Regions from separate parts of the Homo sapiens genome. Here region 1 is linked to region 2. Evidence: fine-mapped expression QTL. A gene starts in region 2. The other region holds a variant in brackets. All regions are shown on one strand. Distances are between the middles of the regions.

Evidence for each region. PIP is the estimated chance that this variant, and not a neighbour inherited with it, causes the effect.
Region 1: its variant is fine-mapped to the expression of PPIF in whole blood (TOPMed, PIP above 0.99).

What each region holds. Positions count from the first base shown.
Region 1 is chr10:79,308,886-79,324,143 of GRCh38, reverse strand. It overlaps ZMIZ1 (zinc finger MIZ-type containing 1), which reads right to left. Exons shown (of 25, transcript NM_020338.4): 24 at 12,960-13,220; 25 at 7,625-11,502. The coding sequence ends at 11,395. Among named protein-coding and RNA genes, the nearest start is that of PPIF, 31 kb to the left of the region's middle. RefSeq lists cis regulatory regions at 5,829-6,329, 5,951-6,451, 5,969-6,469, 6,028-6,528, 5,939-6,541 and 13 more and enhancers at 5,236-5,811, 6,401-6,460, 10,607-11,106, 11,864-12,364. The variant A/T (reference allele first, on the strand shown) is at 9,776.
Region 2 is chr10:79,338,932-79,354,189 of GRCh38, reverse strand. It overlaps PPIF (peptidylprolyl isomerase F), which reads right to left and starts at 6,721. Exons shown (of 6, transcript NM_005729.4): 1 at 6,447-6,721; 2 at 5,084-5,114; 3 at 4,437-4,525; 4 at 2,607-2,703; 5 at 1,798-1,873; 6 at 1-483. The coding sequence starts at 6,641. The coding sequence ends at 348. RefSeq lists cis regulatory regions at 5,740-6,240, 5,923-6,423, 5,952-6,452, 6,455-6,977, 6,445-6,977 and 12 more, enhancers at 1,970-2,470, 4,473-4,973 and silencers at 6,288-6,517, 6,538-6,947.

The DNA of each region.
Region 1 (15,258 bases), 30 kb after region 2:
CTCAACCCACAGTCTCAGAGGCAAAAATGAATGGTTGTTTTAGGCCATTAATAATAAATAGCTGTTTGTTCTGCCGCAAAACCTAACTGATACACTGTCTAAATGTTCATTTGAATCCATGGGAGCTGATAACAACTCTGCCTTCCAGTTCAAAATGACCAGGCCAGGGAATGGACACAGAACCCAGCTGGAACAAACAGAATCCTTCCCTAGGACTCTGTCTCCTGTCTAGGCACATAGCTGAAGTGCCTTTCCCTGGATCTTTGCCTTCTCTCTGAAGACCCTCCCTGCTACCTTTGTAGTTAGGTGTAGCTAACTGAAATTGTAGGTCAATCACAGTCATGAGATTGAACTCTAGCCAATAAATGTGGGCCTGGCCCATAAACTTACTCTCTATGGGATACTCCTTTGGTTTTCCTCATCTGCCAGCTGAATGCAGAAAATTTTAAGGAGAGCAGAGCTACCAGATGAGAAGGACCTGGGTTAGTGAATGACCACATAGACAGCGTCCAACCAGGGGCACCCACATTGGGCTGTGACATGGGCATTGTCTTGAGCCACTGATAGTTTGGTGTTTATTACAGCAGCATGGCCTGGCTCACATATCAGAGAGGGGCAGTAAGAGGCGCAGAGTGATGCTCAGAAGAAAGCGAGTACGGTTCCCTGAAGAAGGGAGGGGTGACGGGCAGGCAGGATGTTAAATGTTCACTCCAGAAGGAAGTTGTGAGCCACCTCGAGTGTCAGGCTACAAAACCAAACCACAGAGAGTCTGGGGAGCTGCCAAAGATGGGGCCTGCCGTCTCTGTGATGTTACCAGCAGCACTCTGGCTGGGCTGGTCTGTCTTGCCTCTCAGGGAAGACACTAGCTCCAGGGAAGACTACTAGGTGCCGGGTGGTGAGGGGAAGACACCGGGCCCTGGGTGACAAAGGGAAGACGCCAGGTCCTGGATAATAAGCAGTAGTAATAGGAAGAGAGGGTTCCCAAGACCACAAAGCTGAGACCCTGTTTCTGTTTGACATATATTTCCGTTGTTAACTGACATCCTTTTAGTTAAAAGCTAGAAAGCTTCTTTTGTTCTCATGACAAGGTTGACATAAGACTTAACTTTTGATATAAGCAAAGTCATAAAAAGAAAAAGGGAAATCATGCAGCCTGGAGGGGAGGGAAAAAGTCAAAGGCAAAGACTGAGCCTAGTAACAGAGATCCACTGAGAGCAGGGGAAGAGGCAGGTCAGGCCTTAGATCCAGCCGGGGCCACAATGGCACCTGCAATCTTTGTGCCTCAGGTCAGATTCTTGACTGGGGCAGGGGTAACATGATTGGTCACTGGCCAGCTAGTCCTTCGCGACACGTGTCCCTCCTGGTCTAATGGGCTGGGGTCAAGGGGGGTTTGGTCATGTGGGTCAAACATGTCTGCCCTTCTGCAGCGGCAGATGGCAGTTTCCAGGGAAGGAGGATAAGGGTGCACAGGCATTCCCAAAAGTCTAGAGTGGCATTCCAGGAGGAGGGGCAGACATTGGCAAAGATATGGGCATGAGAACAGGGTAGTGTGTTATGGTGGCCAAAGACAGCATGTTCAGGGCTGGGGATGGTGGCAGATGGGTCCGGTCTTGGGATCTGCAGACCATGGGTATTTCTGCTTTAGGCAGGGACTGGTCTCTCCAGCTAATCTAGAGGTATAGAACTTGGTGGTTAAGCTCCAGAGTCTCACGGGGCTGGGCTGCATTTCAGTCCCGCCACTTAAACCAGCATTTGGCCCTGGGTCAGAGGTCAGGGACTGGGGACCACTGAGGCAGATGCAGCTCACACCTGGACTTTATTTAGGCCATAGGTGTCTGTACACATTTTTGTTTGCTTATTTGCAACTTTTTTTAAAAACCTGCATTTCTAGATTCTCTTGGAAAATCAGAAGTCTAGCAACAGCTGGGTCTGCATTCTCACCTGGCAACAAACACCCAGAGAAGCAGATGCCCCTTGGTCACAATCAGTGCTCTCTAGTTGTCACACTCTCTGCTTCTCTCAGCTACCTGCCCATACTTGTGCCCTTGCATCATTAGCACTCAGCAGCAGCTTTTGGTTCTGTTTTGTTGAGCAGAGAAATACTTTTTTTGCAGCCAGGTGAAGTTGATTTATTCACTAAAGGTACTGCTATCCAGAAACAATCTGTAAGAGTGAGAGAAGCAGAGTAAGGAGGGGGAAGAGATGAACAATGAGAGGGGCTTGGAGAAAGGCTGCCCTTGGCTGGATCATGGAGCAAAGACTTTGGAGCATAAGCCAGATCCTTAAGGCAAGAGGGCAGGCACTTTGTACTCTAGATTAGCCATTTTTTGTGGGCCACATCCAGAGGGTGGAACTTCCCAGGTGAGACAGCTCTGGTCACCTCAGGGCAATTCTCCAGAGAAAGGGGGCTGTGGGCTGTAAGCTGTGAAGAGCCAACACTCACGGCAGCCAGGGGAGGGGTGCCTTGCCCTGCAGAAGGGATTTGGGCAGGGTGCCACAGCGTCTACTACAGCCCACCCCTTGCACTGCTCAGATCCAGTCACTTCTCACATTAAGTTTATTTTATCTGCCTATTGTTGGGAATGGGGGTCATTGATTTAGGATGTATAGGACAACCTGAAGGATAGCACCCCATATCCTTCACACTGATGAGGTATTGCCTCCCAGTTGGTACCTCAGCTGTGTCTTTAAGAGGCAACTCTATCCCCTATAGACTGGCAGATTCTAGATGTTGTGAAATGTGTAAGGACCAGTGGATTTCACAGTCGTGTGCCCACTGCCATGCAGCAATCATGGTGACTCAGCTCTCTTAGTCTGCAATGATGTCAACTGAGGGCCTATGTCAGTGAATCAGACTCTTGGTGAGCCATAGTGCCAATGGCCTGAGGCTCCATTGGAAGGAGAAGTGAATTCATACCTAGAATATGCATCCATCCTGTCTGGGCAAATCACTGCCCTTCCCATGAGGGAAGGGGTCCTACATAATCAACTTGTCACCAAGTGGCTAGTTGGTTTCATCCTGGAATGTTATTGTATCACGGGCTCAGCTTGGGTCTCTGTTGATGACAGGTTGGGCATTCAGCAGTGACAGTAGCTAGATCAGCCTTGGGGAGAGGAAGCCAAGGCTGTTAGGGTTATATATAACTTCGTCATTGTCACCATGGCACTCTGTTCATGAGCCCATATGGTGCAAGGACTGGTTGGAGGATGACGAGTGAGGACAGAGACTGGCTGACGTCCACTGGCCGAGTCATCCTGCCCACTTGGTTGTTTGGTGTTGCTTCTGCAATGGATGCTCTTTGGTGAGTATTGAAATGTGATACGTTATCTTCGTACTTTTTGCCACTCTCAGAGATCCACAGGCCTCTTTCCCAGTCCTTTTTGTCTCTGATAGTCCAGACTTGTTTTTCCCAGGCCCCTGACCAATAAAGAGCTAAGCCATTCACCACTGCCCATGAATACGAGTATATCCTTATTTCAGGTCTCTTCTCTTGCCGTGAGATGACCAGGTGCTTTGGCAAAATCTCTGCCTATTGGAGGGATTTTCTCTCACCAACATCTTTCAGGGCCACCCTTGGATGGCACTGTAGTGCAGGCTCAGTCCATTTTTGGCTTACACCCACAGGCCAAGTCAACCCATCTGTGACCCAAACTCAAGAATTTCCCTTCTCTGTCAGCTGGTCATAATAAACATTTTTTGTGAGAGGCATTGGTATGACAGTCCTCATCCCAAGTCTTGGTGTCTCCTTCCCTACCAGGGGCCTGATTTGGATATAGGAGACCTCCCTTGATGGAGAATTCAGCCTTTACTCAAGTTCTGCTGCTTTTCCAATGAGTCCTCTGCCTGATTGTCACTCCATCTGCCCTCTGGCTGCAGAAGGTAAGCGCTTTCCAATGCTTCCTGCCAAGAAGTTTCCTCTGATGCGCACACTCTAAATTGCCAGTTAAGATATTTGTAACTGTAATTTCCTTTCTTCAATGCATTGGTGACATTTAGTAATAGCCACATTTAGCAAGTCCATAGTCTTAATAGTTATTCTTTGCCCATATCTCTCAGATGCCGGATACATTGCTGTGGCTGTGTAGCTCCTTCACCTGTGTCCCATCCCAGTTCACCACAGGTGCACACTGCTACCCAATTCCTGCCACTAGTGGTGGGTCCTCATTGTCATCTGGTCAGTGGTACCTCTCCAGCATCCTATCCTCAGAGCCTGCCTCCCAGACCCATTCCCAGCACCCACTGTCTTCGATCTGGATAGGAGCAGAGCATAGGACAGGCATGCTGATTCCATGATTTATTGAGGGAGTGATCTTGGGAGAAACCTATGAGGGAGGCAGGCAGAACAAGGAAGGGGAGAGAGTGGAGTTAGCATGTGGCCTCAGGTAAAGTCTAGCCCTGACCTGACCCACAGGGAGGATTTGAGAGCACTGATCATGCCCCAGCCAAGAGGCCTTTTATTCCTTGTGGCAGTCAATTTTGGCTGTGCGCTGCCTGGCAGGGGTGCATGTGTGGGGATAGGGGGCAGGTAACCTGTCAGGCATGGAGGTTTCTGTGAGCTGAGGGAAATTCTCTGATAAAGGGGCACGTTCTGGGCTGTTGGCGGCCAACACCCGTAGCAGCGGCAGGATGGGTGGGCCAGTCGGTGAAGAAGATCCTGATGAAGCACCACAAGTACCTAGTTACCATAGGAACCTGCGGAGAAGACAAGGAAGGCACAGAGGGATGCCAGGAAAACTAAACAGATGAAAGAGGAAGTTGTCATGGATTCAAGTGTCTTCATCTCTTTTCTGTTGCTCTAACAGAATACTCGAGACTGAGTAATTTATAAAGAAAAGCAGTTTATTTAGCTCATGCTTCTGGAGGCTGGGAAGTTCAAGATTGGGTGGCTGCATCTGGTGAGGGCCTCATGATGCATTGTAGTATGGCAGAAGGCATCATGTGGCGAGGAGGGCAAGCGCGTGCCAAGTTGGCTTTTATAAGAGACCTACTCCCATGATAACCCATGAATCTGCCAACTCATTAATCCATCAATCCATTCATGAAGGCAGAGCCCTTATGACCCAAGGGCCTGCCTCTTAGTACTGTTACACCGGGGATTAAGTTTCACCATGAGTTGTGGTGGGGGGGACAAGCATTCAAACCATAGCACCAAGAGAAGAGAGCTTCAAGGAAGAAATGGCAACTGTCAAGTGCAGCTGTGAGGTCCAGTCTCAGAAAGCAGCGTGGATCAGCAACGAAGAGGCCATTGGTGAGCTTGCAGGAGAAGTGTCAGAGAACTGGTGGGGCATGAACCAGGCATATGAAGGGTGACAGAGAAAGAGAGTGGGCACTGGCAGTTTTGTGGCTGAGAAGCCTGCATGGGAAGGAGCAGAGACTGGCCATCAAGGGGTGGAGCCCAGACCAAGCTGAACCTTGCAATGCCAGAGCCTGGGCCACTAAACCCGGGGAGGCGGGAGGCAGAGGTATGGGGAGGGTTAACGGGCTGATAGAATGAGACTCCTTGGAGAAGAGAAAGGGGTGATGGTGTCAGGGGCTGGGGGAGGGGTAGCCCCAACTGGGGAAGGGACACCACATCCTCTGGGCCTGGGTGGAAAAAGATATGGCCAGGGTGGATGGAGATAGGTCTGTGGGTAGCAGCAGGGACAGTGGGGAGCTGGGTGAGGGTAGGGTAGCCTGCTTAGAGCGAGGTGGGCGTGGTTAGCAGGAGGCTGGAGCAGAGGAGAAGGGAAATGGGGGGCCATTAAACATTGAGTGCCCTTAGCATTCAGGGAGGCTGGAGACCCCAGTGTATCCTGACATCGACCTGTGGGGCTGAATGAATTTCCCCAATAGCATCCCATGGCCTTACATGAAGACAGTCAGTGGATTCAGGGTGGAGACTTTTTGCAGTGGGCTAGAGGAAGAAGAGACGTAAGATGATCCACAGTGTGTGGCCCCACATGCTGGGAGGCTGAACTCTGAACTGTCCCAAGCCAGGGCCCCCACTGGGCTTTTTAGGTGGATGTTTCTGGTCCAGGGGTTAGGCTCACAGAAGGAAGTCACCCGTCTGGGGAGGAGTTAGCTGAGATGGGGCCGGCCAGTCTCCATACAGCCTTGTGGGGCAGCCACAGGCCTGTATCCCAGGTTCAGAGTCTCCAGCTGAAATGCCAGGAAGGTTTGCTTATTATCATGAAGTTGGGGGAGCACACTGCCCTTCCTCCCTCCCTGCTCCCCTGCCCACTTCCTGCCTTTAAGTCAATGGCATTCAAACTTTTTGTTTTCAACCACAACCCACAAATAAGAATTAACATCATGACTCAGCAGACACACACACACACACACACACACACACACACACACACACACACGTTTCTTGATAGAATGCTACCCTTTACTTTGTAGGGCACACTCCTGATATTTTCTACTGTATTCTCATTTGTTTTATTAAAGTGCTGGTCCAGCCCCACCACACTGCTCTAAGGCACAGGGAGGGGGGCATGTCTCCTACGGGAAGTTCTCCCTCAAGCTAACTAATCACCCTCCTCTCGGAGGGGTGTCTGTTCAGAGAGAGTCAGCCTGTCCTGGTGATGCTGGCAGAAGGCAGTGCCTGCAGCTGAGCAGTGGCCGGTGGGTGTTCCATTATTTAAGGTAAATCTTTTCTCCTCCTCACCTTCCACCTCCCTCCAAAAGGAGAAACTCCAGCCACCTCGGAGAGGCCCCAGGAGCAGGGGGCTTCTAGGCACCCAGCCCCCTACAGGCAGCACCCTGCAGCCTCCCCCACACCGCCGGCTCCTGCACACACATGCCCCTCACTCTCCTGACACCCGGATACATCTGAGTGGAGATCTCTGGGGTGCCGGCCCGGCCCTTCTTCCCTCTGTGGACAGTCCCTGTGGAGGAAAGGCCATGACAGCCACATTTGCTTTCCCCCTAAGGTGAGGCTGCGTGGAGGGAGGGCAGGGACTGGCTGCGGGGCTGTGTCAGATGCATGTTCCTAAAACTTCAATCGGAGACACATCAAGTGTTGTCAGTTTGTGTTGGTGCCGAGGCTGGAAGGATGGTTAGAACCATGGCCTGGGCAGGGGCTATCGTGAGACAGTACCCCATGTAAAGCATGCTCACGGAGGAGGGAAAACCCAAGCTTCCCTAGGAGGGGAGGGGCAGGTGTACCGAGAGGTGGAGGCCAGGGATGCTGAGATGCCAGCAGGGAGCCATGGGTGCAGTGAATGCTCACTCTCCATTGAAGCCACACTCCTGTGTGCTCTGAACAGCACCCTCTGTGGCTTAATATGAATAGCTTCCTGCTACTTAAACCCAGCATAATCCACAAGGGACCATCAAAGATGGGACACTGTTGCACACTCTGAGTCACATGCCACAGGGGCCCCTAGCACCCTGCAGCCACCTGGCCCTATTCAGCCACCCCAACTCCCCCAACCATCCGGCCACACACTGCACTTGCCCCACCAGGGACTGGTTCCAGGGACCCCCATGGACAGGGGTTCTTCCAATTCAACACCCAAACCACCTGCCTTTCTTTTTTGTGTGTGCAGAGGGTAACAGGGCGGGGGGTGTGGTTTAAAACAAAAGCAAAAACACCCAAACCACTCCTTAACATCCACAAAATAGCTAATTCGCCAAACCTTTGTTTTTGTCAATTTATTTAGAAAAAAATTAACATGGGCAAATGAGATACCTCAGTGTTACAACAGAGTATAGAAATGTCTAGCAATAGTCAAATAATTTGATCTTTAAATACAAAATAACCACATGAACACCTAATATACAGGTTTCATCTGAATACATATTTATTAGATAAATATTAGAGGTTGTCACATCATCTAACTACATACAGCTTTGCAAGACTAGAAATCACAATTAGTTTTTTGACCAGTTTAAAGTATGAAATGATTGCATTGTACATACGATGTACAAAGACGATGATGGTTTCTGTGGGAGTTACTTCAGGCTGCACTGGTGGGTGTGTTTATGTGTGTACGTGTGAATCACCTGTGATCATGATATCAAAAATTATACAAAGTATGAATTTGGTTACAATTTTCTTCTGAAATCCCCGTTTCTTTTCATTATTTCCATAGCACCCTAAAAATACACAGGTGGCAGGACTAGTACACTGAAGCTAAATAGTACATGTAGGTAAAATAAAAACAGAACAAAAACCCCTTTCCACTCAGGGTCAGAGTATATTACATGAGCGAGAGAGACAGACGTGGAGAACTCACAAATGCTATAACCAACAGGATCTAGTTTTTCCACGTGATGGAGTTCCAAGCTTTTTTTTTTGTTTTGTTTTGTTTCGCAAAATAAAAACAATACACATTCCAAGAGAAATGAATGCATCTGTTGACACGTCTCTATTTCTCATTTACATATGTACACACGTCCCTTGAGTCGCTGCTGTTGACACGGCCCTGTGTGGACGGGTCAGGCCCGAGGCCCGTCGGGAGCAGACCTGTAGCTCTCTGGGGGATCAGGGCTTCCATTAGGGAGAAAGTATTAGCAGTTTCTTAAAAAATAAAATGGCTACACGGAACATGATACATGGATAAAGCTTCAAACCAAGAAGATGGGGGTGATTGCCTGTACTTGGCCCTTCCCGCCTGCCTGCTGGCTCCCTGTCCATCTTGCGGAGTGGCGGCAGAAACATGCCTGTGGGCCGGGTGGATGCTTGGCATGGAAAAGTGGCTTGCAGAGGCCTCGTTTTTGCTGAGGTTACTTATGGCTCCAAGTAGTCGTCCGAAAGGATCAGGGAAGGATCTCTCCAGAGTTCAGGACCATCTCTGTTTATGGGCGTTGTCTACCTGCACCTGTCACAACCTGGGGCTTGCTCCCGCCCCGGATGCCTCTGCACCTCCCTCACACCCTGGCCTGGCTCCCAGAGCACTCCGGAAGAGCTTGTCTCCAGACTGCAGGCTGTAGGCACCACGCACGGTTCAGAGCCAGCCGGAAGGGAAGCTCTGGGCCGAGCTTGCTGGTGGAGGCTTGCTGGAGAGGGGACCCAGGAAACCCGCCTCAGGTGCTGAGCCCAGAGATGGTTGCAGGAGGTGCCCGGGGCCTGGGCTGCAGGGAGCATCTCGACTCTCCGCACTGGAAAGCCGTGGATCCACCTGTGAGCAGAGTGTGGACACACCCTGATAAGAACCAGAATGAATCCCAGGCCTTTCTGGGGCAAAGTATCAACGCAAGAAGCAAGAACTCCTAAGGAAGGCATCTGTAAGTCTGTCTGGAGCTTAATTCCCAGATGGTCTGACACAGGGCGTGGCCACTTGCCAGGCCACAGACACTGGGCAAGGGTGGCCACATGCTACCTGGCGTTGGCTTGTCCCTGCCAGCTGACTGAGGGATGGCTCTAAATAGCGGGCTGCCCGGTCTTCCAACTCCCAGCACAGCCGCCCATTCTGTTCACCCCTTCAACTGTACAAATAGCCCTGGTTGCTTTTTTTGTTTTTGTTTAAAAAAAAAGAAGACTCGGTCTTTGTCATTGAGTCCAGGTATTTTAAAAACACCAGCAAAGGCTATAACCAGGTCATGAAAATGTTGAATATTATCAAAGACGATACTAAAATATTCACAAAGATATTTACAAAAGCGATTCTTAAAATAATTGATTTGCATACTGAACAACACGCTATTTGAAAAAACCTCGACAACGGGACAAAGGAAGAAAAGGGGCCGGGGCAATGGCAGCTTTCCTACAGAAAACCTTGTGCCGTCTGGGACAGTGACTGGAAGTCAACAGCTGGGGCCACCTTTCCGGTAAAACCCACAGAGGAG[A/T]GCTGGGGACCACCCACAGCGGACGGGAGAGCAGGAAAGGGCCCCAGGCAGCAGCCGGGAAGGGCGCAAAGAATTTACAGATGGGACCCCAGTGACGGGACAACCTGGCATCACCCTAGGCCATGTGGCTCACGGGGCACAGACCAGCCTGAAACAAAGTGAACACAGGACAGGCTCCCCAGGAGGCCCTGGAGAGTGGTAAGCCAGATGGAGCAAAGCGGTGGAGGGAAGGCCAGAGGCTGCTTTTGCTTGAGTGAGCAGGAGTTTGGGTGAGATTGTGATGGTGGAGGAGTGCAGGCAGGGTAGGCTGGCAGCCAAGGGCAGTGTCTGGGGCAGGCCCAGAAACACGCCCCCCTCCCCCCCATGCCTGCAGGTACATACTGGTGCACATGTCCATGGCCTGGGCTGCAGCCGGGGGCAGCTTGGAGCACAGGGACAGAGGGAGGGGCTGGACAGACACCATTGCCCTGGGCTCTGGTTTCTGCACCTCCCCGGCCTTTCCACGCACTGCCCTTGCCATCTGATTGGACAAAGAGAACTAGGACAGAGGGAAGTGGGTGTCCCACGGAAGTCTTGGAGAGGTGGCAGGAGAGGGACTAGGAGAAAAACAGAACAGACGGAGAGAAATGGTTTGCTTGCTGTCCAAGAGCAACGTTCCTTTTCTCCAGGTGACTTCATAGCTTTAAATTGTTGCTGTTTAAAAAGAGAGTGGCTTGGAGCAAAGTTAGAAGTTGCCGCTCCTGTTTGCTTCTGACAGGTTATATGCCCGCGCCCCCCAACCAAGGGCACAATCACTTTGGTTGGGTGTACACCTGCTCTCTCTGTTCCCCAAGCCTGGGCCCTGTCTGAGCTTGGAGGTGGAGCCTCAGGGACGTCCTGGCTCAGAAGATGTCCTGGCCCTCTTCCCCACCAGTCCCCAAGCAGGAATGGCAGACCCCCTCTCAAACACAGACTCTTGTCCTTTTTCTCTGCTTTCTGAGTGTGTTTATGGGGTATCTTGGCTTATAGGTCAGGGGTCAAACCGATGACCCCTGGCCCCCGAGAGACGTTGTCTTTCCCAGAGGTTTGTGCTTTTCTGTGGTGGGTGGTGGTGGGTGGGCTGGTCTCACTGCCACCAACTGCCAGTGCTCCTCCAAGGCTCGGGGCCCATGCTGGGGCCCGGGGGCCTTCTCAGGCTCCACAGTCACTGGAGGGAGGCTCTGGACCAGGAAGCAGGGAGGCAGGGTTACAGTCTAGAAGATGGAAGAACCTTGGGGACACTGGAAGGTCATCTGGAATCGGCACACGCGGAGGGACCGGGAAGCCGCATCAGCGTGTGCCCTCTTACCGGGCTGGTTCCTCTCGGGAGGGTGGTCTTCAGGCCTGCGCTGGGCATGGGCCCAAGCCAAGGGTGTGGAGGTGGGACGTGGGCTCCAGACCCACACAGCCTTCCTGGTGCACTGGTGCACCCTCCCTACCCCTCTGTTCTGAGAGGGCTGCAGCGGGGGAGGGCTCCCCGCCCCACAGCCCGTGGCTCTGGTGCGGGGCGGTCTGAGGGCACAGGCTCCCAGGTGGAAAAGTGTGTTGGGTAGGTGGGGTAGGATGCAGAGTGTGGAGGGATGGCCCCGACCGGGTGGCCCTCAGTTGTTCTCAAATAGAGACAGGAGGTCATCGTTACTATTGCTCGGCAGGTCGGGGGGGTCCAGATAAGACAGGAGCTCGTCAGGATTTGTGAGTTCGGGAAGGAGCTGGAAAAGAAGGAGTAATGAAGTTCAGATGAGGTGTGCCTGAGAGGCAGGCCCCGGGTGAGGAATGCAGGGGCGCCCTGGCCCGTCCCCCTCCACCTGCCTCTCAGGACCCTAGCCAAAAAAAGGGGTAGAGAACAGCCTTGGGCTTGGGCCTGCCAGGTATCCCCACACATACCCCGGCCACTGCACCGAGTGTGGGGCACCCCCATGCTCATTTCAAGCCTCAGGATTGGGACCCGCAGCCCACCAGCTGAGGCCTGAGCAGGGCTGACCCTTTTCAGGCATGGACTTCAGCCCTAACCTGGGAAGGCCCCATGGCAGGTCACTTGGGCCTCCCAGCTGAAATCACATGCTTCACGTGTAAGCACAAGGAGGTGGGCTGGTGGGAAGGCGGGAAGGCGAGTGGTTCCTGCACCGCCCCCAACCCCCCAACATCCCTCTTCTCAAGGGCTCGCCACTCCTTGGTGAGCCTGTGGCTGGCTGGCAGCCATCCTTCCCTGTGGCCCCGGAGGGGATGCAGACTGTCTCTACCCTCTACTGAGATATCCTTGGAGTCTGTCACATGGGGAGCCTCATGCATCTAAAAGCAGCCCCACTGGCCTGGTTTGAGGGGGAACACTGGGCAAGGACCTGAGATGGCTGCACAGTGAGTGAGTCCTAGCTAGCACAGAGCTCCTCTGATGCTGCAGGGCAGAGGCTGACAGAGCAGGGCTGGGGGTGAAGAACAGGAGGGGCCGAGGACAAGCCTCCTCCCGGAGTCTGGCACCAGCTCTGTGTAGGCATGGGCGGGGCCGGTGCTCAGTCCCATCCCGCCAGCCCCATCCAGCAGCCCAGCCCCATCATCCAGGGTGACCCCCACCATCTTCCAGACCTCAGGGTAGGAGCCCTGGCACCTCTGCTGCCCATGATGGCCTGCTGCCCCTGGCTGTGACCCAAGGCTGCCCCCTCTGCCCCCACCTTCTGTCACCCACATGGGGGCCTCTTGGAGTGAGCGATGGAGCAAGCAGAAGCAGGGCATGGACAACACGCGGACAAGAAAACTGGAGACAGACACACACCAGCGAGGCAGACAGACGGCCTCTCCCTCCAGCCCTCCCTGCCCGGGCCAGAGAGGCAGACACAGAAACCGCAAGCTCACCATCGGGGGAGGGCAGGGACCCTCCTGTGCTGCGCAAGGGACCCCGCAGGGCTTGGGTCAGAAGGTGGGTCAGGGCTGGGGTTCAGGGCTATGGCCAAAGGGACTGGGGGGACAGGAGCCAGCAGGGTGGGGACCCTCAGTGGTGACACTTCCCCATCATGGGGCTTCCTGGTCTGGAGCCAGGTCTGGGTGAAGCCCTCCCACCGCCCACCCACCTCCTCCCTTCGGGGCCTCGAGCCCTCACACCCACCCCTTCTCTCGGGCAGGTCCCGGCGCCAGGCCTAGCCCCAGGCCAAGGCGAGTGGCGACCCCAACTTACATCCAGCGAAGGCTCCGGCATGTCGGACGCTCCCTGCGCTCCGGCCTGACCCTCTAAGGCTGAGGAGGGGTTAAAGGTCAGGTCGCTGTGTGGATGGCTGCTGGGAGCGGCCTGTGGCGGCTGCCGGGGAGGCTGGGAAGGAGGAGGAGGAGGAGCCCCACTGTGATGTAATGGAGGCCCTGACTGGCTGCTGGGGTGTGGTACGTGCAAACCTTGTTGTATGGAGGGGTGGGGCTGGTCAGAGCTGCCAGCGTGTGGCATCTGTGGAGGAGGAGAGAGCGGGAGAGAAGAGAGGTGAGGTGAGGAGGCACGGCGATGATGCCTGGAGAAAATGAAACCCAACACAACCAGGGAAGTCACAACCCCCGAAACGTGGCCACCCGGTACGAGGCTGAACGTTGTTTCTGGGCAGAGAAACAAAGAAAAATTTCTCCCCCAAAACCGCCCATCAGGGAGGCTGCAGGGGGACGGCGGGGACCTCTCGGGCCACGTGGAGCCCCAGGAGGTGGGGAGGGCTTCGACACAAGCACAGACACGGGGAGCTGGGCCTGGGCTCCCCCAGGCCCCTCCACCTCCCCGCCCAGACAACGAACAACAGCGAGGGCAGGATGGAGAAGCAGAATGGGCATGTTCCGGGGAGCGGGAGGCAGGAGGGCGGCTGCCTCAGCGTGGTGCAGATCCCAAGCTGGGCGGCAGAGAGCAGACACAGACAGACAGCATTGGGCGGGCGTGCGGCTCAGGACTGGGTCTGCACCTCCCAAGTGGGCCCTGGGCAGGGGTGATGCTGGGTACGAAGGCGCCTTCTGCCAGTCCGAAGTGTGGAGCAGCTGGGGCCTTGGCACAAGCCCTGCAGCGCGGGTGGAATTTGGCTGTCAGAGGAGCAGGGCTGGGTGGGCACCTGGCCAGCCAGGGGCATCTTCACACCCTGCCAGACCCTTTTCCTAGACATCCCACTTGGTCGGCACCAGCCCTCAAAAACACAGGGTTGTGAGGGAGGCAGGCACCTCTGGGACTCCAAGGACAAGGAGACTGAGTGACGGTTCACCAATGGTGGGTGTCTTGCTGAGGGTGAGGCTGGCGGTGCCTCTCTAACAGATAACTAGAGGACTCGCACCCTCCTGTGGGCACGTGCACTGAAAACTGGGCTGTCTGTGGGTGGGTGGGTGAGATGTGAACATTCCCCTGCTAGCCTGTTTGCTGTCCCAAGCAGATCCTCCTTCAAAGTGAAAGGCCGGGGAATCCTCGCAGACCAAGCCCTGATCCCACTGCAAGCATCCCTGACAGCCCCCAGCCCCACTTTCGCTCTGCCAGTGAGAGGGGCTCACGGATGCTCCAGGTGCTCCACTGGAACAGCAGCCTGGCACATGCTTCCTTGGTCTTTTCATCCCCTCACCCTGCCCCATCCTGGGGCAGCCACACAGAACACACTGACATGTTCTTCCTGTGTGCATTTAGAATTTGCAGCCACACCATCCTCGGTCTTTGCCCATCCCCAACTTCCTTCCTCTTCCTGTTTCTCCTAAAACTGTTTCCCAGGCCTTGCTATGGGTCGGGCTCTGCCCACGGTCCAGGTGTCCCCTTCTCAGGGTGTAGGGCCCCAACCCCATGCGGCCTTAGGGAGCACAGTGCCCTTCCAGTCCAAGCCCCAAGAATGAGACGACCTCGCAACGGTGCTGCTGGAGACCTTGGGAGACCCGTTTATGAGACACATACAAGAGGCTGGAGGAATGGGCCACCACCCATGGTCAGTGAGAGGCCAGCTTAGGGCTCCCACTCCTGTAGATGCCCTCAGTGCCCACCCTGGGAGAGCAGGGAGGGGCTCCACACTCCAGCTGTGCAGCCCAGCTCAAGACAGACAGTCCCTGGATCTTCAGAGGCAGCTGTGCCCCTCAGCTTCGTATCTGGCTGGAATGTCTCCGGCATGGAGGGGCAGGTGCTGTTGGAGCACTGCTGACACACCTGTCAACCCGCCACCAAGTATGGGCAGTCTGTGGGGGCAGCAGCATCTGGATAGAGCGCTCTGGCCAGTCTCTGCGGGCATGGCAGTGCCTCCCAGCCTTGGGCTCAGCTGGGGGTGTGGCTGCCTCCACCTGGGCAGGTGTGGTAGAAGTTTACCTGTGACTGCCCTGCCCCACCGGCCTGGCACATCCGCACTTCCAGGTCTGCTTGCCCTCTAGTGAGAGCTCAGAAATGGAGGACAGGACCATCTAGAGAGCATCTTAAGGGGCTCTGAGGTCAACTCACAGGCTCAGATCAAGCCACACAGAATGCAGGCAGCGGGGCTCACAGAAGGCAGGAG
Region 2 (15,258 bases):
CTTGGTCAAGGAAAAGACTTTCACTTGGATGGCAACCCATCACCATCACCATGTCCAAGGCACAGATGAATCTGGGCTGGGCAATCACAGGCAATGCTTGACAAGGGGTGGGTGACATCATGTCCACAAAGATGCCCAGAAATGAGGTCGTGAGGAAGGGTGGGTATTAGGAAGCAATGTGGTGGGTCCTGGCCGAGGTCTAACATCCCTAGCAGCCTTCCTCAGGCACACTGTGACAGTGGAGTGGGCACACGTATCGTTTCAGGCACCTTGGCTGACAGCCCAACGCGGCCACCTGGGTGCATGGACATTTGCAGCTGCCACCATGCCAGCACCCTGGCCACAGATTAGCTCAACTGGCCACAGTCTGTGATGACAATCTTCTTGGATGTCCTCCCACTCTTAGAGCCGAAAGATTCTATTTTCTTCACGACGTCCATGCCCTCTTTGACGTGACCGAACACAACATGCTTGCCATCCAACCTGTGAGGACGGGTGACCCGGGTGAGCAACAGTGTAGCGCAATGTCATCCAATGCCATGGACCTGGTCATGGAATTAGTTACCGAAAACAGCAATTCTGAAAAGAATCCCCATGGAATAGCTAGATCTACCCCCAAAGCTCGATCAAGCCTTGTTGAGCGCCCCAAATACACCCCAGAGGATGCCTGGCTTCCAGGACACATTCTGTCACTCATGTTGTGACCTTGCCTCAGGCCATGTAGCCTGAATCCTGGTAACCCCATCTATCAAAAGTGGAGTATTCTTTGTTCTGCATGGGGAGGTAACAGGATACTGAAATGCTCTGAAGAAAGAAGAAGTCCATACAAATGGAACCACGTTAACGGTCATGAATGATGAGTCAAGAGTCAAAGGAACAAGGGTGGTGAAACTGCAGGAGTCCTGGGCAGCTCTCAACCCGAGAGAGTCCAATAATGTAAAAGGCGGCTCAGTCCAGCTCCAGCGAAGCTGGCGTGGTTCCAGCCAAGAGCAGAACTGCAGGATCCACTGGGGTCCCATGAAGGAGCAAAGAGCAGGCTGAGCCAGCAAGGACCTGCCCAGCCCTGCCGGCCACATCTCTTGGGCTTGGAGGCTGGACACTTCTAGTGTCTGCCCCACCTAGGTCTCCCTAAAATCCTCGGAAATGGGCTTTACCAAGTCAGCTCCCAGCCAGTTCATCCCCAGGTGCCCCAGGGCTAGGACATTTGGGACTCTGGCCAGAGAAATTTATCCCTTAGAGGAAAATGTACCAGGAAAGAGACATCCCTAAAATCCATGGGCATTGAAAACAGGGCCCTTACAGGCCTGTGGCTATCTGCAGGTTTATGATAATACAGAGGCTTCATTTGGAAATTTGCTGATATCCAAATGTCTGCTGCAGCATTGCCAAGGCTCAGCCCATGGTCAAGACAAGCCTGGGAAACTCCAGGTTAAAACCACACAAGTGGGCTTCTACTCAGTCCCTCCTGAGGCCTCATAATATGTTTTGCAACATTTCCCAAATGTATCTGGTAGAGAAACCCTTTCGTGTGTGCGTGTGAGCAGAACACACTCAGAAAATTCCAGGTGACAGCAACAATGGGAACCCGAACCATGACAGAGTTGCAGGAACAACCCCAATTCTCCCTTGATCCTTCCACTAACTTTCTCTTTCTCATACAAACACACAGCCTGGGAGAGGGCCACTGTCCCAGAGCAGAAGGCCTGGCTGTAAACTGCCTGCCCCTAAAAGTGCACGAATCCTCCTCCAGCTGCAAGGCTGCCCGCATTCCCAGAGGGCCTGGGGCAGGGAACTCACCAGTCTGTCTTTATGGTGCAGATGAAGAACTGGGAGCCGTTGGTGTTAGGACCAGCATTAGCCATGGACAGGACACCTGCAAAAACCAGCAGGGCTGAGCCACGCTGCCCCTGGAGGCACCTGCCTGGGAGGGCATTTGAAAGGGCAGACGGTGCAAACCACACCAGGGACATTCGAGTCTGCAGATCCTGGGACCCAGAAGAGGAGAACCAGGGCCCGATACCAGCCCCCCAGGGTATGCCTGCCTTTGCTGCCTGCTAGTTCTCAGTGGGGTGGCCTGAGAGGACAGGGCCTTGTGGAAGCTCTCAGTGGTAGAGCTGGGGCGGGACCTGGGGCAGGACCCCAGGACCTGACCTCCAGACATCTCCACATTCTACCTTGGGTCTTATAGGTGACACGATGCTGCCACAATAACCACTCTGGCTTCCAAACCATTTGCTTTTTATCTAAGCAAGATTTTAAATAATCCTCAAAGGACCTAAGGACCATTCTGCAACAATTCTAAGTGTCCTAGAATTTCCAACCCGAAACTCAGAGGACAAACAGGGAGGTGGCCAGGGCCTCCATTCTGCTTAAAGGTTCTTCCACAAAGTTCCCAAAGGAAACCCTGCTTTTTAAACTGAGAGATGAGAAAACTCTAGGGAAACTCAACAAGCCAGAAATGCTGAGACAGCCTACAGTGTCGCAGGGAGGAAGGAGACTCATCAGATACTGGACGGTGACTGCATGTGGCCTCTCAGGGCCTGCTGGGGCTTCCAGGCCAGGTCAGAGCTGTGGGGACACTCACCCTAGAGGAGGCCCCCACTCACCTGGCCCCACGTGCTTCAGTGTAAAGTTCTCGTCAGGAAAGCGGCTTCCGTAGATGGACTTCCCGCCTGTGCCATTGTGGTTGGTGAAGTCGCCCGCCTGTGAGCACAAAGCACCTTCTGAGTGGCTACCATGGAGCAGGCGGGGGCCACGGCCCTGGCGCTGGCAGCAGCCTCAGCCCACCCAAGCCCACCCAGTTGGCGCCCCTCAGGTAAAGGGGTCAATAAACATCCAATAAAATAAGAGCTAATAATAAGAATAATAAGCAAAAAAAAAAAAGACAAAACTTAAATATCTTTTGTCACCGTAACTACCTTTGTTTCCAAATGACTTACTTTTTGTCTGAGCAAATTTTTAAGTAATCTTCAAAAGACCTAAAGGCCATTCTGAGATGATACTTAGTGACCCAGAATTTAACCCACTCCTCCTGGAGGGCAACAAGGAAGAGGCCAGAGGCCCCCCAGTTCCCGAGTCTAGTCTGTGGGAGTACCAGCAGCTGGTCCAGACCAGCTCCCCAGGCCGAGTCCCCTCACTGTCCGCGCACTGCCCCTTACCCAGCCCAGCAGCTTTCCCAACCCTTGCAGACCCAGGACAGAGTCTGCCCAAGGCTGACATCTTTCCTCAGGCCTCAGCTAAGGCCCAGGCAGCCGTGGCCAAACCTGCATGGGGCACCCATGGCCAGAAGAGCCTGGTAGCAGCCCCTATGCCTAGCGCTGCCCAGCCCAGGCCATGGCTGGCTGCTGTTTTCCTGAGATGGGATCCGTGGGTAAGAGAGGGGAACTGACCAGCCCAGCTGAAGCATCCACAGGTGTCAATTAGGTGCTCCCTAATTGATATCCCTCCCAACGGATGACTCAGGACTCTGGTCTGGACTCCCGGTGCCACCGCCTTGTGCCAGGGAGCCCTCCCGCGCTGGAGTTCCCACCCTGGCTCAGGACTTCCACCTCAGCTCCTACTTTACCATCAGCCTTAGGGCTGGGCCAGGCCTGCCGTCCCTGTGTTCACCCCGTATCCAGGCTTCGCCGCACATAGACGTCCAGTCCCAACCCGCTGCCACTTACCACGGTACGATGACGGCCACTGGGTCAGGGTGGAGGGAATGGGGAGAGAATTCCAGGCAGGAAGGTCTTCAAAGAGGTCATGACAGCCATGCCCCTGCCTCCAGGCTCTGCCTGCCCAGGACACCCAATCCCTGATCTTGAAGGTCTGTGCTAATAGAAGACCAGCCCCAACACCACCTGGGTCCTGACCCACAGGAAGCTCCTGCTACAACACCTACCCCCAAACCTCTGACACAGCAATACCAATGCTTGTGAAAACTGAGCATGACACATGACCGAAAAACATTCATTTCACCGAGAATAATGCCTTTCTCTGGGAAGGGAAGCCCCAAGTCCTGGCGTGTGTGTTCCTGCCCTGGACCTGTCTTCCTCCTCCGCCTCCTCCACTTCTCTCTCTCCCTCTCTTATCTCCCACACCAGTGCTCAGGGGCACACAGGGGACAAGGTCAGAGACCACTGGAATATGCTGGCTCTTCAAAGTCTTCAAGGCCACCCCCAGCACATCCATCTCCCAACCCAGCTCTCTCTTGATAGACTCCACCTCCCAGTCCCCCGGGCAGGGCCTGCCACTGACCTGGAGTGGCAGCGGGTTGGGGCTGGGCTTCCATGTGCAGTGAAGCCTGGATACAGGGCTAATGCAGGGAGGGCAGCCTGGCTGACAGAGCAACTGCAGCTGCTCTGCTCAGCACCTTCCTCATACCAGGCATCTTCACACACCCACAAGGCAGCTCCTGCTCTCATCCCCCCTTACAGAAGAGGAAACTACATTACCTGGCACATGAAGGAAGGGATCACCCTGTGGAAGGTGGAGCCTTTGTAGCCGAAGCCCTTCTCACCAGTGCACAGGGCTCTGAAGTTCTCTGAGGGTCGAAGAGAAACACAGGTCAACAGGGCCAGGCCCCAATTCCAGGGTCATACCCGTTCCAGCCAAAATCCCTGCTACATCCCCAGCAGTGAACAGGGGGATAAAGACTCTGGCCCACCTCTTGGGTCTGCTCTGCCCAACTCGCTATGTAACTGGACAAGTCACTCCCCTTCCCTGTCCTCAGTACCTGAGCACTGTGACAAGAGTACAGGCTCATGGCTGTGCTGGCCAGCAGGGCACGGACTCAAGGGCTGTGTGCCCATCACCCTGCCTCACTGGGCACCAGGAGTGGGGAAGTCTCCGGGAAATTTACATGTGCCTTCCACTGGCTCTGAGGCTCCCAGCTACTATGAGAGAGGAGGGCAGAGCCAACGTTGAGGCCCAGAGAGGGATGGCAGGGCTGCCCCAGAGCACCCAATGGCTGAGCCACACATGGAGCTCCCATCTGTCAGGGGTCTCTGAGCCCCGACTCTTCTCATCACGCCACCCACCTTGCCCTGCCTGGCCCCCTTCCCTCTAGACCCATCTCAGAAGGCCCCAGGCCCTGTCTTACCAGCTGTCTTTGGGACGACATCTGCCTTCAGCTGTTGGGGGAGAAGAAGGACAAAAGAGGATGGTCATTGGAGAGGCAGGTGAAGGTGGGTGTCTCTCAGCACCCACCCACCCCCACAGTGGCCAAGGAGGCTAAGGAAGAAGCACGTGGACATTCCATTCCCATTATTGCCAACCCCCATGGGAGGCAGCTCTATCATTTCTGGGAGCCGTTTCCTGAACCCAAGGCTGGAGGAGGTGGCCTTGGTTTCCTAATCTGTCAGAAGAGATGACAATGCTATCTTGGCCTACTTCTGTGGACACAGCTGGCAGTGCTCCCACAGCTGGGCCCAAAGCATCAGAAATTCAGGGACAAGAGAGTGTGTCTAAGGTAGAAGCCAGACCAGCTCCTCCATTCGGGGTTGGGAAACTGAGGCCCAGGGAGAGGCATGAGGGTGTGGGGAGGGAAGGCTGAAGCCCCATCCCAGCCAGCCTCTACCCTCGAAGCTGCAAGACCCACCCTGGAACCAAATGGAAGCAGGAAGGGTGTCCCTATTTTCCAGAAGAAACTGAGAATGAAGAAGAAATACTAAGGGCTCCCTGGGATACGGGCCAGTCAACACAAACAGACCCCTGCTGTCAATGTGTGGCCGACCTGAAGGCTCCACTAGGGCTTTCCCTCTAAAGCTACCCTGGTGACTGTTTCTTACTTTGCTTTAGAAAAGACCCAAAAACAGAGTTAGGGGAGGTGCTCAGTGTGGCCCCCAAGGACAGTGGCAGGGGTTGAGGCGCCGGGCACACTGTCTCTGAGTGTGTCCCGACTCGCAGGAGGGGCATTCTGGGGTCCACCAGGTGGCCGGGGCCTGAGGCCTACTGGGCCCGCACTACTGCTGGAAACCACCTCTCGCTCCATTTCCCAGCACCCCCAGTGTGAGCCCGACCGCAGGGGCGGGGCCGGAGCCAGGAAGCGCTCCGTGTTGTGCAAGGGCCGCCACGTGAGCACCCGCTGGGCCACGACGCTCACCCCAAGACCCCCGACACCCACCTCGGAGCTCCGGATCTAGGCTCAGCCCCAGAAGGCTCCTGGAGCCCCTCCCTCGTGCCCGGGCCGGCCCAGAGGTGCTGAGCCCTCCCTCTCTGCGATCTGACCTTGAGCTTTCTCCTCCACACGTGCCCTCCCTCCCGTCTCCCCCGCTCCAGTGCTCCGAGGGAGGCCGGAAGAAATCATTCTGACGCCCATTCTCAGAAATGGGGAAACTGAGGCCCAGAGCTCGGCATGGGGAGGCCCAAGGTCACCCAGCGCGCCCGGCACCGCGCCGCCCGGGGCCCAGGGCTCTCCCCGGGCCCGTGTCCCGCGCCCAGGCCGGCCCTGCGAGCGGTCTCACCTCCAGCACCACGCGGCCGAGCGGCTTCCCGTTGGCGTCCACGTCCAGGTACACGAGCGGGTTCCCGGAGGAGGAGGAAGAGGACGGGTCGCCGGAGCCCTTGCTGCAGGCGCGGGCCGCGGGGAGGCGCAGCGGCACGGAGCGCGGGACGGAGAGCAGGCCGAGCCAGCGGGAGCCGCAGCGCAGCGCCAGCATCGCGGGCGCGGGTCGGGCGGGACACGGGCGGGGAGAACACAGAACTCAAACTGACGTCGCGCGCGCCCAGAAGGCCGAGTCCCGCGCAGCCGCGCGCCGCAGCCTTTATTGGCTTGCCCAGGTTCCCGGCCCTGCCCCCGTCCCGCCTCCTCCAGGCCTGTCCGTGGACTACCCCTGCCGGCCGCAGCGGGCAGCGCAGCCAGCCGGTGGGGCCGCGGAGCGTGAAGTGCTTTGAAACACTCCCGCCTCCAGGCCCAGAGACCCGGAGAACAGACACCTGGCAAAAGGTTGCTGGTTCCATGTTTATTAAGGTACCAGCAGATTTTTTTAAAAAAAGAAAAACTGCTAAAACGTAATTAATTCCAAAATATGAGCATCTATACGTTGCAATTTGAATATAATAGCAAAAGTCTACCTTTGAGCCCTTTGCAGGTAAGGCTCAGGCCAAATAAGCTTCCCTGCTGCCCTAGGTCCTGCAGTCTGAGAGGGTTAGAGAAAGGTGAGATGAGAGGCGGGATTAGTGAGCTAGAGGCGCAAGAGGGAGGAGATAAGCTGAGACACCTCCCATGATGCCCCCTAGCCTGCTTGTCCCGGCCTGGGCCTGTCTCTAGTTGTTTCTGGGGACCAGACCTGCTTCTAGCAAGACTGAAAACGCAGCCTGGGCTCATCATGCTCCTTTCAGGCCCCCAGCCCTCCCCAGGACTGGGTCTGATCCCTCCTCCTAGGACCCACACTGACAGCCCCGGGGCAGACTGCCAGCTGCCCCCTCCCATCAGCATGCACCCTGGGAGGGGACTCAGTGGGGAGACCCACAGCAGGAGCATTTAAACCCCACGTGCTGAAAGTGGGCTTCCCAGCAGCCAGAGCCACCCTCACTGCAAGGTGGTGGGAGGTCTGCAATAAATGGATGCCACGCAGGGACCTGAGAGAGCATCTGGCCCAACACTTGTACTGTCCCCAGGGGAAGCTGAGGCCTGGACACAGGAAGGCACTGGCTAGGGCTAGGGAGCCCTGGAGTATTGCTACCAGCTTGCACCAGTGCTCCAGGCCTCTCTGGGCCTCAGTTTCCCATCTGGAGGGTAAGGGTGCGATCATGCTCCTCATCCTGCTTTTTTCTCGTGTCTGTTCTTAGGATAAAATGAACGAGAGAGACATGGATTTGTCAACTAAGTACTGTGCCTGTGGGCATCTGTGATGGACAGAGTCTGGACTGTCTTTCTCACAGTTTGGGATTCAGAGAGCTGCGGTCTCAGTTAGAGGCCTGAGGGGTCAGAGAAAGGGGTGGGGCTGAGCCTTGGAGGCAGGTGGGCAGGAGTAGGGACCAGCTCTGGACTGACCTGCCCCAGATCCTGAATGGGCTCATGGGAACAGGTCAGGCAGCAAAATGCCAGCCAAGCAAATTCATGAGGTCAGAGCAGTGCCCTAGCTTCATAAGAATGCTAGCTTGGCCTCTGGAAGTTTGGCTAGCTTGGCTTCTGGAAGTTCATAGCCCCCTTCTCCGATTCCTGGCCTAGGAGGGGCCTAGGCACCCAGTGAAGCCCAGGTGGGATGCATTCCAGGTCCCAGCCCAGAATGGGGCCTCACTCTGCCCTGGGGAGCAGCCCCTCCTTTCTTATGATTGTGCCCTGAGGTGAGCAGGCCTGAGTGGGGAGCCCACTTGAGCCCTCAGCACATGTCCCAGACCTTCCTCTACCAGTGCATCCTGTGGATTTGAGAGTGGAGGAATCACGCCATGTGCCTTGTCATGAAGCTTCCTTAAGGCCCCAGGCTTCCCTGCGGCCAGTTCCAGGCCCTGAGCTCACAGGACCTTCAGCCACAGCAGGTAGCTCAGCGTACCCTGTTGTTTCTCAAGCCTGCTCCTGGGGGGACTCAGTTTATGCCCCATCCTGATGAAGCATGAGCATCCCCACCCCAGGGGAGTGCTGCCTTCATTCACTTGACCACTTCAGTTCTCAGAACCCTTTCCCAGCTGTGAACTCTGCCTGAGAGACAGCTCTGTTTTGCAGATGGGGAAGCCAGGCCCCAGGGGCTGGGGAGTGAATTGCCCAAGGGCAGGCTGTTGGAACTGGGACCAGTCTGTCTGACTTCACAATCAGGGTTATTGCATGTCAAACCCTTCTCACTCTCACCACGAAGCTGGTCCTTGGGACAGGGTGGGGAGGCAAGAGAGATAAGCCTGGGCAGACAACACAGTAAGATAGAAACGGTGGAGTTGGCCAGGGGGCTATGGAGCTCAGGGACTAGGGAGATGGTTTTAATAGTGAGCATGAGCTGAAAGGCCTGTGGGGACCCAATCACAGAGGGCTCTGAAGGCCTGGCTGAGGTCTGACATTGTTGGATAGCACTGGGGAGCCATGAATAGTGCAAAGACTCCATGCTGAGGACTCTGGACTGGGAACCAGCTTCTTTCATTCATGTTACTCCTTCCACTCTCTTTGGAAAATCAAACGTCATCACTACCTCCTAAGCCAGAGAAAAGCCTACCTTCCCCAAAGGCTTAGCTATGATGTCATCCCTTCCTGTTCTGTTCTCAGTGGTATCAGGAAGAAGGATAGTCTATAGGCTAAGCCATGAGCTGAACACATGCCCAGCCCTTGAGGGCTCCGGGCCCAGGTGACATCAGGCAGGTGTTAGCACTCACCTGGCTCTGAGGCTATTTATAGACTGTGTTATCCTCAGAAACAGCAGTGTTTCTCTCCACTCAGCTCACATGGTTTTTTATCCAGGGTGCTGATGGGTTTTGTCACCTAGGGATCCTGTAACACCACCTCTAGGCCTCACAAAGCCAAAGAACAATCAGTTTGTGCTAAGCTCAGAATCTCATTCAGGGGTTGCAAACTCAGATGCCTGCGGGGGCCAGGCAGGTGATACACATGAGTGGTGCAAGCTGGTAAGTATGTAGGGAGTGAGGGGAGGTGGCACTGTATCCAGATAGCTAATGGATGTCCCAGGTAAAGAGGTAGCTGCTGCCCAGGCCAGCCAATTATTGTATATGGGACTATGGGTCCACACAGGCCACCCAGGTTTTCTCATCTTTCAATAAAAGCTGAAGACTTTAAGTTTTATAGAAATCTAGTTTTCAAATTTTTGAAATGAATTTCAAAATAAAATTAAACACCGAATGAACTGTAAACACCGTATCCAAACTAGATGAGGACTCTGGGCTGATAGTTTGTAAGCTCTGATTTCCACTGTACAGGTGAGAGGACTGAAGCTCAGAGAAGGATGGGGAGTGGCCCGAGGCCATACAGCTGGGCAGTACCAGGACTGTGGTCAGACCCTCTCTTCACTCTCCCCAGGGCCCTTTCTGCAAAGTTCACTCAGCAGACATGTTTTCAGAGCACCTACTGTGTTCTGAGCCCTGAGCTTCACCCTGGGGATTCAGAAGGACAAAGACAGGGACAGGAGGTTATGGTGTCCTGAGATGCTGGAACTGCTGAACAAACCTCTCCCAGGTAGCCCTGTGTGTGGCAGGAGTGAACGCTGTGGTTGTCGTGGGGTACAAAGTTACAGTTGTTCTGGAGAGACCCTCCAGGAGGGGCTGGGGGTGAAGGTAGCCCCGGTGTGGGCATGAGGTGGGGTTTCTATAATATTAAATATCATGAAGGCTGAGATCATTACCAGTGCCAGTCACTGGGTCATACAACCTGTGCTGCCAGCCTAGACAATGGTCCTTAGGTAGGATGAGGCCATGGACTTCATCTGTCTGGTTATGCTTGAGGGGTTTGGGGTCCAGGATAGCATCTGTCATGGGAAGGGAAACTGAGAGAGAGGTTCCCCGCGACTCAGAAAGCCACCAGACCCTTCTACTGGGTTGCTGTGGGACTCTCTGGGGATGGAGTGTCCCCCGTGGCCTTTGCAAAGTCAGTACATTCATCATCCTCTCTCTGCTGGCTTCTAAGAACCAGACCATGATGGGGAGGCAGAGGCAGAGAAGGGAGGTTCCACTAAGGCCCAGGGAGGTGGTGGGCACAGTGATCAGAGAGAGACCCACAAGGGGAAGATGGGGCGAAGCTCTCCTCTGGAGTCCAGCTGGTCTTTTACTCGTGTGATCTGGATCACTGCGGGCCACTGAGAGCGGAGCCAGTGTGGTAGGGTGGAGCTCAGTAGGGTGTGGCTCACCCTCAGCTGCTGGGCTCTCACACAACCTGCCTGGCCACAGCCCCCTGCAACTCACAACTCAGCAGAGCTTGCCTTCTGGGAGTATCTGCAAGATAATCCATGTTTGTTGTTTGAAGCCACTAAGTGTTGGGTCATTTGCCATGTGCAGTGGATAACTCATACCCATAGTACCCCACCCCAGCCAGGACTCCTGGAAGATCCCATTGCTCCATGCACAGCCAGTCCTGGATCTGCTGTCTCAGCAAGCTTGGTCACCAGCTCTTGGCAAGGACCTCACGGGCATGGTCAGGGAGAACTGGTCCAAGAGACAGGACTTCCTTGTCTTTGTAAAGACGTGGAATGGGCTGGTTATTTCTGTCTCATGCCTCTGAGGGAGACTGATTGAAGCTTGGGAGAGTGGAGGAGCTGGGAGAGAGTCCTCAGCGGGAGGGCCTGAGGGTCTGGCCATGGCATCCTGTTGGCCTCTGGGAAGGGGACGGGGCCTCACTTAATACCTCCGTGCTGGGCTCCGCACTTTGTAGATGTCATTCTGAGCCTCAGGGTGACCCTGCAAAGTGGAGCTTGTTGTCCCTGTCTTACAAATAAAGGAATGGAGGCCAAGAGAGATTAATGATGTGCCCAAGGTCACACTAGGGCCAAGTGGAGAGTGGAATTCTTCCTGACTCACCTGGCTCTGTGTCTCCAGGGGCAGGTGGGCTCTGAGTGGTGCCTCTGAGCTGGCTTGTGCCAGACATCATCCCCTCCACGCAGCCGTTTTCTTCCAGCTAGCCTGACACTGTGCTTAGTGATTGAGATCTATGATCCTATGTAGTCCTCATGATAACTCTGCAAGGGAGGGTCTGTTGTCCCCACCTGATGGACACCAGATGGCTGAGCTGGATTTCAACCCAGGCCTGGCTGAATCCATATCTGCACTCTCTCCCACTGACTGGGTCTTCTCACCCTAGAGAATCTACCATTGGCTCAGCCCTGCAGGGCGACACCCAACAGTACAGCTGGGTAACATAGAAACACACACTGACTTCATTTACACAGTCCCTGCCCAGAGTCAATAGAAAAGTACCTGGTCAGCAGGACCCGCAAGGTTGCCAAGTCCAGTCCAGATTCGTCCTTGGTGCATGCCCCATTGCCACCTTTATTTACTGTTTACTGATTTGCAGTGGCTTTTCTCAATGCATCATTATCCTCAGGAGAGGATCCCACTGCCAGTTGTCTAGGAGTGGGGCCCAAGACTTTGCCAAGCCTAAAATGCTGCTCAGTCAGACTTCACCTGAGCTCTGGGCTCTCTGCCTTGTGGGTGCAAGGAAGCAAGCAGCCTCCAATTCTGCAGTTTCCCTTTTTGGTCTGTTGTTTTGGTCTGTGCAATTTTCATGAATCTACTGACTTGACCCTCTTAACCTCCACTGACTAACTCACATTGATACCTTTCCTTGCTCCATTAGAATAAATCTCCTTCTGGTCAACAATGCTTACCTTGTGATCCATATTGTCCACCTTCTGATCAGTATGGTCCACCCTTGATGACAAGTATTTGTCTTTTCTTCAAATGAAGATAAGCACCATGGTGAAACCCCCTCTCTACTAAAAAATACAAAAATTAGGCCGGGCGCAGTGGCTCATGCCTGTAATCCCAGCACTTTGGGAGGCCTTGGCGGGCAGATCACCTGAGGTCGGGAGTTCGAGACCAGCCTGACCAACATGAAGAAACCCCATCTCTACTAAAAATACAAAATTAGCCGGGCATGGTGGTGCATGCCTGTAATCCCAGCTACTCGGGAGGCTGAGGCAAGAGAATCGCTTGAACCCGGGAGGTGGAGGTTGCAGTGAGCCAAGATCACGCCACTGCACTGCAGCCTGGGCGACAGAGCGAGACTCTGTCTCAAAAAAAAAAAAAAAGTAACTGGGCGTCATGGTGGGTGCCTGTAATCCCAGCTACTCGGGAGGCTGAGGCAGGAAGAATTGCTTGAACCCAGGAGGCAGAGGTTGCAGTGAGCTGAGATCGAGCTACTGCACTCCAGCCTGGGTGACAGAGCGAGACTCTGTCTCAAAAAAAAAAAAAGAAGAAGAAGAAGAAGATAAGCACTATGGTAATAAGAATAGCTACCTTTTGCTGCACTTAATACACTGCACATGGTAAGGATTTATAACATTATTTCTTAATCCCCACATGGCCCTTGAGAACAAGTACTAGTATTAACTACTTTTTATAAATAGGGCCTCCAAAGTGGGCAGAAGTCATAAGCCATCCAAGGTTACCTGGGTCTTCCCTTGTGTTAAGTGAGTAGTGGAACAGCCTGTATTTGGCCTTGCTCTGCTTAATCCCAGAACTTGGCTCCTGCCTCTAATGCTATCTTTGCTACTGTTGAATTTTAGTACAAAAGATCAGCAGGTCAGGCTGAGAGAGGCCTCAATTTATGTGACAAAGATCTCAGATTGTAGATGAGCAGAAAGGCTCAAACAGTTGACCAACTAGCAGCCTATGTTCCTAGGACAGAGGGTCCGTATCACAGGCCCTGGGGCTGGGTGAGTCCAGGCATATCTCGGGATCACAGCGGAAGCTTCAGCTCCATGGGGACAGGCCCAGCCCATTCAGCAGAGAATCAAGGAGCAGGGGACCCTGCGAATCAAGGGTGTTCGGAGAAGATCTAACTAAAGCTGGTCACAGTAGAAGTGTGGTGGGGTGGACACAATGCCATCTCTAGAGAGTTGAGGGCTGCACTGGGGCAGAGGCCACAGTGGGGCTTCATAGGCCTGACCAGGATGAGCAGGAGCCAGATTTGGGTTCATTTAGACAGAAAGCTTCCTACCAGTCAGCAATATTGCAGAATGATACTTTGAAGTAAGAAGCTCCTCATGGCTGAAGCTGTGCGAGAGATACCAAGCAGGGATGCCACAGAAGATGGCTGCTTGGGCTAAGTGGTGGGGCCAGGTGACCTGTCTGGCTCCTTCTGGTTCAGAGACTCTGCGATTTAGACCCCCTAAGTTGAGGCTGCTTGGGGGAACAGAAAGTGCAGCGTGCAACCTCAGAGTTTTGTTTTTTGGGGGTTTTTTGTTGGGTTTATTTTTTTTTCTTATTTTTTATTTTTTGGAGACAGGGCCTCGCTCTGTCACCCAGACTGGAGTTCAGTGGCGCTATCTTGGCTCACTGCAAACTCCACCTCCGGGGTTCAAGTGATTCTCAGAGCTCAGCCTCCCGAGTAGCTGGATTACAGGTGTGTGCCACCACACCTGGCTAATTTTTGTATTTTTAATAGAGATGAGGTTTTGCCATGTTGGCCAGGCTGGTCTTGAACTCCTGAACTCAGGTTATCCAACTGCCTCAGCCTCCAGAGTTATTTATTGGCATATCGGTGAGTAAAATGTAACATGAAACCATAAAGGCCGGAAGAGAATACTGACATATGGTTACTGGTTTCAAAGTGGTCAAAGTTTTCTAAGCACAGAAGCAAATGCAAGGAAGTATAAGGAAAACTAGGCAACGATCTGGTGGTATACCTGGCTTAAAACTCTGCACTTTAAAGGCTCCACTGGCACAGTTGGGAAGAGTAACTTGTGTTTCTTTATTTCTCCCAGCCCTTTCCTTCCATGCTTTGGGGCAAGCAGACTTCAGAAATAAGGACAAAGATGTCAATACTTGGCTTTAAGGTTTCAAAAAAAAAAAAGTTAGGATACTTGCCAGTTGGTTTAGAAAATATACATGATCACTCAGCCAGCCTTCCCTTTCAGATGCGACCTTCATTCACCCCCAACCTGCAAGAGACCCTCATGGTTGGAGGAAGAAGGGAGTGGAGGGGAAGCAAGGGAGTAAGACCCATCAGGGGATGTGAGAAACCCCAGATGAACTCCAGGAATCCAAAAGCAGAGGCATCCTGAGCCGTGTTTCTGAGTAGAGTCGAAGAAAGGAGCAAGAATCCAGAGCCAGGCCCTTCCCTGGTGGGGAATGCAACCTGGTTGCCTGGTGTGTCCAGACAGGTAGGGCTCCCAGCAGCCATGAACAGATTTCCTGGAGGCCCAAGAAGGCACAGAGTGACCCAGGAGCCTGAAGACCTGGAGGCCATGTGGCTGGACAAGGAAATGACAATAGGGACTGCGTCAGTGGACCAGAGCCAGATGAAAATAAGGATCTTAGTAGACACCAGAGGAATCAACAAGTAACCAGATGGATCCCAAATTAATCTCAGCACTTTGCGAGGCTGAGGCAGGAGGATCGCTTGAGCCCAGAGGTTTGAGACCAGCCTGGGCAACATAGTGAGACCCTATCTCTACACAAATTAAAAATTTTTTTAAATTAGGCAGGCATGGTGGTACAGACCTGTCACTCTCCCTTACTCATGAAGTCTTTACTGGTGGCCAGTAGGCAGGCAGTGGTCATCCATATAGGGTTTCCAATAGTAGGACCCCAAGCCTGGGACAGAGGACAGGGTCAAATTCTGGAAAAAGCAAGACAGGTCTCCATCCTAGACCCTGAATGGGCAGAGTCCAGACACAGAAGGCT